Homo sapiens: one gene and its partner. The protein of the gene in region 1 interacts with the protein of each later gene in a pairwise test. Each region holds a gene or a part of one and is shown in the gene's direction. Other genes may lie near its edges.

The links. Proteins that work in one complex are often made in the same cells at the same time.
Region 2: the proteins of LRPAP1 (region 1) and ETV7 interact in a two-hybrid assay, tested with the Homo sapiens proteins (one large-scale study listed by BioGRID and IntAct).

The regions. Positions count from the first base shown.
Region 1 is NC_000004.12:3,521,593-3,526,726, reverse strand, and holds part of LRPAP1 (alpha-2-macroglobulin receptor-associated protein precursor), read left to right. Parts: intron 1-1,675; coding exon 1,676-1,820; intron 1,821-5,134. UniProt on the Homo sapiens protein: Molecular chaperone for LDL receptor-related proteins that may regulate their ligand binding activity along the secretory pathway.
Region 2 is NC_000006.12:36,376,521-36,381,654, reverse strand, and holds part of ETV7 (transcription factor ETV7), read left to right. Parts: intron 1-5,134. UniProt on the Homo sapiens protein: Transcriptional repressor; binds to the DNA sequence 5'-CCGGAAGT-3'. Isoform A does not seem to have a repressor activity. Isoform C does not seem to have a repressor activity.

The DNA.
Region 1 (5,134 bases):
GCAGAGTGAGGCGAGGAGGTTCCGGAGTGTGGGGTGTGCCAAACACACAGAATTGGCTTCGTGCGAGTCTTGAAAGAAACGTGTGCCCCTGCGCGGCGCGGACCTGAGGGCTGGGCCTCCTGAGGTCTCGGGCTGCAAGGCAGTGTGGGCCACAAGGCGGCGCGGGCTGCGGGACACTGGGAAGGCAGCCGGCTCTTGACGCTTCGTGGGGATGTTCACTGTTTTACGTAAACTTTATTGAAATATAACACACATACTTTGGATACTAGCTTGTGTTGTATTTATGTTAGAAAATAGCTAATGAAATATAGATAAAAGATTAATATTTCAAACGTCTAAGGGAAAACAGACTCCATATTTAAACACACATGATCAGAGACAGGCGTTAGGTGATGGGCACCTGGAGCTCAGAGGCAGGAGCTGGGGTTCCCTCCTAGAGCCACGGGCAGCTCATGAGGACCAGCCCCGGGGGAATGTGAGAATGCAGGTGCTCAGGGAAGGGGACCCTCCTGAGAGCCGAGAGATTTGGGGATCTGCACTGCACAGTGCCGAGCACTTCCTTTGCTGCAGGACTCCACAGAGGCTTTAATGCGCTGGCGTCACTACAGGCATGCGGTGCAGCCTCCCCAGTTAGCCAGGGACAGCACCCTGTCTCCGTGAACCCTGGTCCCACCTCATGACACGTTCTGGTTCACACAGCTGGGCCACTCTGCTCTGCACGGAAGAGCCTTCGCTTCCCTGAAGGGCTAGCCTGCCCCAGCGCACGCCTCTTAGCGGCCGGGCCAGCCCCGAGGCCAGAGTTGATGAGAGCTGGCCGGTGGGTTTCATTCTGCTGCTTGCCTCGGCCGCCTGGCATTCTGGCCCAGTCTTTCTGACGTGGGGACACTCTTGGCCTAAATCCTGTCTTTGCAACCAAAAAGCAGTGTGCCCAGCGGTCACCTCACTTGCTTCCTTCTCTCACCCAGGGTCCCAGAGCTGGGAGGGCAGGGGTGGGATGAATGAAGCGTGGCCTGCCCTGCGGAGAGGGATGAGGGTGGGGCGGGGAAGTTCCTCAGCCCCAGTGCGGCAGCTCGTTCCGGGGCGCTGCCTGTGTGGTCTACGCCAGCAGGTAAGTGAGAGGGTGACAGATTCCTGCTCCAGAAGGATCTGGGGCTGTGTAAGAACCGTCTCAGCAAGACAGTTCGGATCATGGTACACTTGAGAGGTGGTGACTGAGGGTCTTTGGGAAATGAAGATGGGGCAGATCTGAGATTACAGTGATTTTTTTTAAAAAAGAACTTCTAGGTGTCTGTGTCCTTGCAATATGTATCTGCAATGGTAATGCAGTGGGTATCTTCTTCCTGCTCTGTTTATCCGAGTGCCCGATGACTGTCCTCAGGTGCTAGGGTGGGGTGTCCTGTTACAGCCGGACAGGAATGAGCAGCCGCTGCTGGTGGGGAGCCCCCGATGGACTTGGGGTTTCCGGATCGTGTATACAGACAGGCCTAGAGACTGGTGTCCATGTTGAGTTCTTGTCTAAACCTGTGGGGTTTGAATCCTGCTGACAGTGACCCTGACTCCACCTCTTCCTGGTCTCCCAGAACCTCCCGGTGGCCAGCCTCCTCCGAGGTCAGTTTCTCGCTGTGTCCTGGTCCGTCCTGCTCGTGGCTCACAGGCTCCTCCCCTTCGTTCGCAGCTGCATCTTCCTCCCGTGAGGCTGGCCGAGCTCCACGCTGATCTGAAGATACAGGAGAGGGACGAACTCGCCTGGAAGAAACTAAAGCTTGACGGCTTGGACGAAGATGGGGAGAAGGAAGCGAGACTCATACGCAACCTCAATGGTACGTTTGTTTCTTTCCTAATGCAGGTCGAGTATCCCTCTTCCTAAATGCTTGAGAGCGGCAGTGTTTTGGATGTCGGATTTTGTTTTTGGATTTGGGAATATTTGCATTATGCTTAATCTGGATATCCAAAATGAGCCTTTCCCCGAGCATCCTGAGTGCCCAGAAAGCTTAGGATTTGTGTTGGGGGCTCACCCTCATGAGGGAGGTGGCCACTGGCTTCAGTGTTTGGGGGGGCTAACCCTCATGAGGGATGGTGGCTGCTCGCCTCAGTGCTGTGGGCTACGCCTCTGACTCCTTGGCTTTTGGCCAAGGGGCCCATTGGGCACAGCCTGCGGGGGGCTATCCTCCGAGCACAGATGCGCCCTTGGCCGTGGTCTCAGTTTGCTGTCACAGATGCCATTGGCACGCCAGAGGGAGGGCCAAGGCAGGGGCTCTGGGTGCAGGAAGGGGCCGGAGGACAGCAGGAGGCTCTGTCACCCAGAGGAGGAAGCAGGTCTGCCCTAGCATCTTGAAGTTTTGGGGACATACTCCAGATGTCATCAGAATGGACACTTGGTTGTCATGCGCTTAGTGAGTCCTCGTCCCTGTGGGTATTCAAGAAGAGGCAGGACAGTCGCCTGCTTGGTACCAGCATACGGAAGACAGGTGTGTCCTCAGAGCCGGGAGGGTTTTAAATGACAGAGTTGCGACTGTTCCTTTTGGACCCCTCTCCTCCGCCATCCTCCCTCACCACGGGCCCGTCGGCAGGGCACTGGCGGGCAGAGGACGCACACCAGGTGGGCCCGTGGGACTGGGGTTGGGGCTGCTCCGGAGAGTCGAGTGCTCAGCTGCCTGCTGTCAGCTATGTGTAGCAGCCCTAGGAGCTGCTGTGCCTCCACCCAACTGCTGCCCCTGGGCCTGACCCCAGGCACCCCTTCCCCAATCCCCTCCCCCGCTGCTCCCTGTGTGACCTGGGCCCCCGGCACAGTCCCCTGCCCCCCACCTCCGTTTCCTCCTCCTGTCTCACAGGACGGTGGTGTGAACCAAGTGGGATACTCCCCACTGTGGTGGGGGTGGGGGTGGCTGCCATCGCACTTGTTGCTGTCGTGAGGGTGGCCCCAGAGCCCTGGCCATGTCTGGAGTCTGCTGTAGCCCTGCTTTTCACACGCGCTGATGGCCTCAGGCATTGCAGCGCCCGGGTTGTCTCTGGTAAAGAGAGGAGGTGTCTACGGAGTTCCTTCGTTAGGCCTGATGCTCTAACACCTACTCCTCAAAACTCGTTGTCGTCCCATTTGACAGGCTCAGAGAGGGTGATTTGTCTGGAGTTGCAGAGCCGAGTAGTGCAGCAAAGATTTGGAGTCAGGGTTTTCTGACTCCTGAGCAGGTGGTCTGTTCCCAGCCACCCCTCTTCTCCCATTGGCAGGCATCAGCAGACATGTCATGTGGCTGCGCCCGGGTTAAAGACAGAGGGCCGGCTTCATTTTTGCTGGTTTATGCCACCATGTTCAAGAGTCTGGTTGAGACGTAAGCCAAGATACGGCGGCAGGGACTGCCTGGGGAAGAGAGACATGGCTGAAACAATTCTGGATGGTTGCGTCCCCACCAGCGTGTCTAGTGGGCCATTCCCAAGGGCCAAGAAAGAGCCTGTCCTGGAGGTGCCCCCAGGAAGAAGGGACTGGCTATGCAGCAGGGCAGCATTCGGGGCCTGGAGGAGACAGAGTAGCTTGCAGGGGGCACAGAAGTGGGCTAAGAACCAGCTCCCTCCTGCAGGCCAGGCAGTGTCCTTGCAGGGTGTCCAGGTCTGTGGCCCAAGTGGAGCTGTCTTGTTTTCTGCCATTGCCTAGTGACCTGGCAGAAAACTTAGTGGGACTCTAGGAGCCGGCGTCCCAGAAGCAGACCCTGCCCACACTCAGGAAAGAGGCTCGTCCTGGCCAGTTCCCCGCCATCTTCTGGGTGTGGTCCCTGGACCCCCGAGGTCCCCCGTGCCATTATCAAGTGTGATACCATACCTGGGGGACCAGCCATAGCCAGGTGTGCCTGCCCTTGGCACCCTCCATGCTGAGGTCCACCCTGAGACAGACGGGCCACGCTCCACTCTGCCCTGCCCTGCTCTGCTCTGGGGTTCGCTCCTGTCCTCACCCCCACCGCGCCCCCAGGGCCACTTCACTCCCCAGGCAGGGAGTGTGGGGCGGCGTCCGTCCTCCCCAGGCAGGGGGTGTGGGGCGGCGTCTGTCCTCCCCAGGCAGGGGGTGTGGGGCGGCGTCCGTCCTCCCCAGGCAGGGGGTGTGGGGCGGCGTCTGTCCTCCCCAGGCAGGGGGTGTGGGGCGGCGTCCGACTTCCCCAGGCAGGGAGTGTGGGGTGGCGTCTGTCCTCCCCGGGCAGGGCGTGTGGGATGACGTCCGTCCTCCCCAGGCAGGGAGTGTGGGGCCGTGTTCATCCTCCCCAGGAGCTCTAAGGGCTCGGTGCTCCTGAGGCCGCCTCCAGCTTCAGTGCTCTGTGACTCCATTCCATGCAGAAGAACCCAGCACCTCCAGAATCCAGAACCTTCCATAGTCCCTGCTGCTGATCGCAGCCGTGGGTACTCTGCCTTTTGATGGGGTCTGACCAGCCACTTTGGGCTCTGGCTCAGAGCTTTTGGCTCCAACTAGGAAGGCTTGAGCCAGGCTAGCCTCAGAGCCCCAGGACATGGCCCACCCTCCCCGTCTCCCCCTCTCCTCCTCTCGGGCTCAGGGGTGCACGGCCTGGGGGTGGGACCTCAGTGCTGCTGAGCAGTGGCTGGACTTGGGGGTCTGGGCAGGACGGCCTTCACAGGCAGGCCTGGCACTGGCTTTCTAAGGCCAGGAGGCATCCAGGCCACTTTTTTAAAAAGTTTGTGTATTTTTGTATGTATTTATTTCATTTATTTTCTCATCCCCCACAGCCGGTATTATTTATTTAATTATTTATTTATTTTAAAAGATGGGGTCTCACTTTGCTGCCCTGGCTGGTCTTGAACACCTGGGTTCAGACGGCCCTCCTGCCTTGGCCTCCCAAAGTGCTGGGATCACAGGCATGAGCCACCGCGCCCGGCCTAAAATAGTTATTTCAGGTATAAATTCCCTGCCATGGAAGACAGGCCCAGCATGTGGTTGAGCTTTGAAGCATGCATCTACGGGACCCGTGCCCAGCGCCAGCAGCTCTTGACTGCTGTCAGGAGAGACGGCTTTCCTCAGGGACAAGACCACAGGCTGGTTTTTCACGCTTAGGAAGATCACAAGCGCTTCCAGGCTGGAACACAAGAAGCACATGCTGCGTGTGGCCTTGAGACCCCCATGGCCCAGGCTTCCGGACAG
Region 2 (5,134 bases), on another chromosome or scaffold:
GCAATGGGGTGACAGATTTAAGGAGTCTCTGAAGACACCATGACACACAATAAACTAAGGACATGATAATTGATAAAACGTAGTCATCATGGCAGAGAAGCAAGCTAGTCTCTCTGTTTTCAGGCTGGGGTCTGATGATCAGCATCCTGATCATCAGAATAAAGGCCATTCATTCGTTGAGTTTTTATTCTTGACGAGGTATTGTGATGAGCATACCGTATTTATTATCTGATTGAATATATTCAGTAGGCATGGAAAGTAGCTTTTTTTGTTATCTCCGCCTTACAGTTGTGTAAACTGGGCCATAGGTGAATTATCTTGTCCAAAGCCACCTACCAGTAAAATGGTGGAGCTGGGATTTGAACCGGCATCCCTCAGACCCCACAGCTGTCATTTGCTTTGAGAAACTGCCTCTAGCCTCAGATGATGATAGCTCCCATTTTTAGGGTACTGGCCAAGCACTTTAACTGCCTCCTGCATTCTTCCTGCAAGGGGATCCTGCAAGGTAGGGAGAAGCCAGCTGTTCATTCTGATTTGGTTGCTAAAGGCTGGTCAGGCTCTGTGGCTCCTGGAGCTCACTAGACCCAGTAAACTGCAGGGGTGTGGTGGGAAGTGGTGGGAAATAGCTTTGGTCAGGTGGGGAGGGGCACTTTGAGGGGTCTTGAAACCAGGACAGAGGGGTTTTGACTTGATGGGCTTGGTAGTTGGGAACAATAGTTTCTTCAGCAAGAGAGTAAAAGGGATGCTGTGGGAAGAGAGGTCCAGTCGGGGTCGGGGTGGGAGTCAGGGGCTGGAGAAGGGGCAGGCAAGGAGGCCCTGGGGGTGACCCCACACTGCTTTGCTCAACTCACTTATTTAAGCAATTTATTTTTATTGAGCAGCTACTATGTGCCAAGCATTGCTATAGGGGCTGGAGAGACCACAGTGACTGAGACAGGCAAAGTCTGTGCCTCCTGGAGCTTACATTCTAGTTGGGGATTCAGTGACTATGTAAAGAAGCGCTATGTCCACAGATAAGGGCAGTGGACGTGATATAGCTGGGAGGTGGAGGGGAGCCCCCACATGTAGCCCTGCTCTGGGAGGAGGTAGGGGACAACAGTGTTGACTCTTCAGGGAGACACCTGAGCCCTCCAATTGTGTCCTGGACAGGCAGCTCCTCTTGCTGCCCCAGCCAGGGGACTCTGTCCATATCTGCCTTGGGAGCTGGGAGTCGGGAGCTGGCCAAGCTGGAAATCCTCAGTTAGCAGGCCACTGGGCCGGGAGAGTGAGGTGACATTTGCCTGGAGTCTTGAGAGACAAAGATGGTTAATGGGAAAGAACTGAAAATGCAATGGATTATTGCCAAGAGAGGGAGAGGCCGGGGGCTGATCTGCAGGTGAAGTCCCACATTCACCTTACATTGGGAAGGGGAGCCCCAGTTACTCTCATCCTGGCAACTGGGTCAGGGAGACTTCTTGAGGGTGATTGACGCCCTAGATAATACCCACCAGGTGTTGGACCCTGTGCCACGCATTTTACGTGTATTACCTAATTGACATTTATAGCTCTATGTGTGTCAAAAAGCACATGCCACATGCCAGATGCTGCTTTTAAATGGGTTATCTGAAAGCATCCTTGTGACAGCCCTGTGTGGACAGTACAATTTTTTTCATCATCCTTGGTTTCACTGATGATGAAACTGAGGTACTGTCATTTAGGTCACATTATTTACAGCTGGCCTGGCAACATCATCTATGCTTTCTGTTGTTGTTGTATGTTTTTACTTTTTTTTTTTTTTTTGAGATGGCGTCTTGCTCAGTCACCCAGGCTGGAGTGCGGTAGCTTGATCTCAGCTCACTGCAACCTCCACCTCTGGGGTTCAAGTGATTCTCCCGTCTCAGCCTCCCAAGTAGTTGGGATTACAGGCACGTGCCACTGTGCCTGGCTAATTTTTTTATTTTTAGTAGAGATGGGGTTTCACCATGTTGGCCAGGCTGGTCTCAAACTCCTGACCTTATGATCTGCCTGCCTTGGCCTCCCAAAGTGCTGGGATTACAGGCATGAGCCACCACGCCCGGCCTTCTTCTTTTTCTTCTTCTTCTTCTTCTTCTTCTTTTTTTTTTTTTAAGAGACAGGGTCCCACTCTGTTGCCCAGGCTGGAGTGCAGTGGCAATATCATAGCTCATTGCATCCGTGAACTCTTGGGCTCAATCCCTCCCTCCTCAGCCTTCTGAGTAGCTGAGACTATAAGCATGCACCACCATGCCTGGCTAATTAAAAAAAATTTTTTTGTTTGTAGAGTCAAGGGTCTAACTATGTTGTCCAGGTTGGTCTCAAACTCCTGGTTTCAAATGATCCTCCCTCCTCTGCCTCCCAAACTGCTGGGAATTATAGGCCTCAGCCACCACAACAGGCCAGGAATCACAGTTTTGAATTTTCAGGCTGACGCCTCCAATATGGTGAACTAGGGGAACTACACAAAAAATATGAGTTCAGGTACAATGCAATTGGCGGTTGACACCCTAGCCGCGGAAGCCCTGGCTGGCTGTGGAGGCCTGCCCTCGACCCCTCAGGAATCTGCCCATCGTGTGGCCTCCACATTTTACACTAAGTCAGCTTTCGGCGTCTCATGTATCACCAGACTCATCTCCCATCGCGGCTCTAAATTCCTATCTTCACCAGCAAAGCATCCTTTTCCCTGCACTCCTGCTATTAAATATCTTATTCTTCTCTGATGGTACATTTCCCTGACTATTGAGGTGACATGTCTTGTCACATGCTTATTGGTGGATTTGCTGTGCCACAGGGGATCTCACCTGGCAGCAATTTTGCTGCTCCTTTCCCCCCGGGGACATTTGGCCGTGTCTGGAGACATTTTTAGTTGTTAGAACTAGGCTGGCATTGAGTGGATAGTGACCAGGGTATTCCTAAACATCCTGCAACACACAGGATAGGCCTTCACAGCAAAAAATTATCAGTCCCAAAGAGTCAATAGTGCTGAGGTTGAGAAATCCTGCTTTGCTGGGATTGCTGGAAAGATTTTTTTTGTCTTTAAAAAAATCAATTTACAGATGCTCTTGACCTATGGTAGGCATTAACCTTTTATCTGTCATCTGCATTGCAAATATTTCCCTGAAATCTACCCTCTTTTAGTTTTGTTTATGGTATCTTTTGCAGCAAACACAGAAAATTAATGTAGTCAAATGTGTGTTTCGTTTTTATTACAGCCTCTGCGTTTCCTGTCATGGTTGAGGTCCTCTCTGCTCTTATTGAGTGCATTTGGTTTTTGATTTCTACTTCTATTAAGATTTGTATTTTTCTATTCTTTATGCCTTTAATCTACCTACAATTGATTTTTGTGAATGTGAATGGTGGGAGGTGAGGACCCAAATGTATTTTTTTCCAGGTGGAGAGTCAGGTTTTTTTTTTTTTTTTCCATATTAGATTAACTATCCTTTCCCTCTGAATTAAAATCCTGCCTCTGTCATGTATTAACTTTACAAAATATACATACACACATAGGCACGCGTGTGTGCGTGCATGAACACTTACTTGCTCCTGGGCTCCACCTTCTTTTCCAATGATACTTGCCAATCTTAGCATAAGACCATTTGATCTTAGTTACATGGCTTTGTCACATGCAGTACCACAGAGGCCAGTTCTCACATGTATTCTTTTTTCCTGCCTTAAATAATTTTTTTGGCAATTTCAGACATGTACTCTTTTCTCTTACTCATTTTTAGGTCCCAAAATAGAAGTAAAGGAAACCTTTCCTCACTCTTAAACTGGGCTCTAGCTCCTTGCTTTCTGTTTTCTCAGCACAGTGAACGTTCCCTGTGTGCCGTCGGGAGGACTATCGTTAGAGTTATTGGTGGTGGGGCTCCTCCCTCCTGCCAGCCTGGTTCTGTGCCGTGTCCCTAGCCCTGCACAGTGACTGACACAAGCTGGTACTCATTAGATATTGGCTGAATGAATGAACAAGGAAAGATGCAGATCTCCTTTGTTTTAAATGTTAAAATTAAGTTCATTTCCTGTGTTGCTTTGAGTATAAGGGAGCAGAGGCTGGTCTGGTCTTTATCATTGCCAAGGTGTGGCCTTGGACAGTTGCTTCTCTCTTCTGCCTCAACTTTCTTACCTGTAGAACTGAACCCAGTGAGCTCTGAGTCTTTACACCAGTGCAGTCATAAAATAGGATTTAAATTTATGTATTTTTTTGATACAGGGTCTCACTCTGTCACCCAGGCTGGAGTGCAGTGGCGCAATGATGGTTCACTGTGACCTCCCGGGCTCAAGCGATCCTCCCACCTCAGCTTCCCAAGTAGCTGGGACCACAAGTGTGCATCACTATGCCCGGCTAAATTTTCTTTTTTGTATTTTTGGAGAGACGGGGTTTTACCAAGTTGCTCAGGCTGGTCTCAAACTCCTGGGCTCAAGTGATCTGCCCACTTTGGCCTCCCAAAGTGCTGGGATTACGGGTGGGAGCCACCACGCTCAGTGTATTTTAAATATTTTTTGCCCACAAAGGCAAATGTGTCAAGGGCTCATGAAGTCGTAACGTAGCCCTGCTGAACACTATCCAAAACTTGGCATTAGGAGCGTAGCAGTCCCAGGCAAAGTGGAAACGTGGGGAGAATAAGCAGCCACTTGTCTGGCTACTGCCAGAAATAAAAACACATGCACTGAAGGTGAGTGTAGGAGGCTCCCTTTGTCCCCTGGGCTGTTCCCTGAGCAAACCTGATTCCAAGTTGGCACAATGGAGCAGAAAAGTTCAATAGCCAGACAGCCCGGCTGTGCCCCATGCTGCCTGTATGCGTGTGGGCTAGTCACTTAACCTCTGGGAGCCTCACTGCCTCATTTGGGAAACAATAACATCCCTTCCTTTTTTTTTTTTTTTTTTCTTTAGAGGGAGTCTCGCTCTGTCGCCCAGGCTGGAGTGCAGTCGCATGATCTCGGCTCACTGCAACCTCTGCTTCCCGGGTTCGAGCGATTCACCTGCTTCAGCCTCCCGAGCAGCTGGGACTACAGGTGCATGCCACCATGCCCAGCTAATTTTTGTATTTTTAGTAGAGATGGGGTTTCACCGTGTTGGCCAGGATGGTTTGAATCTCCTGACTTTGTGATCCACCCGCCTCGGCCTCCCAAAATGCTGAGATTA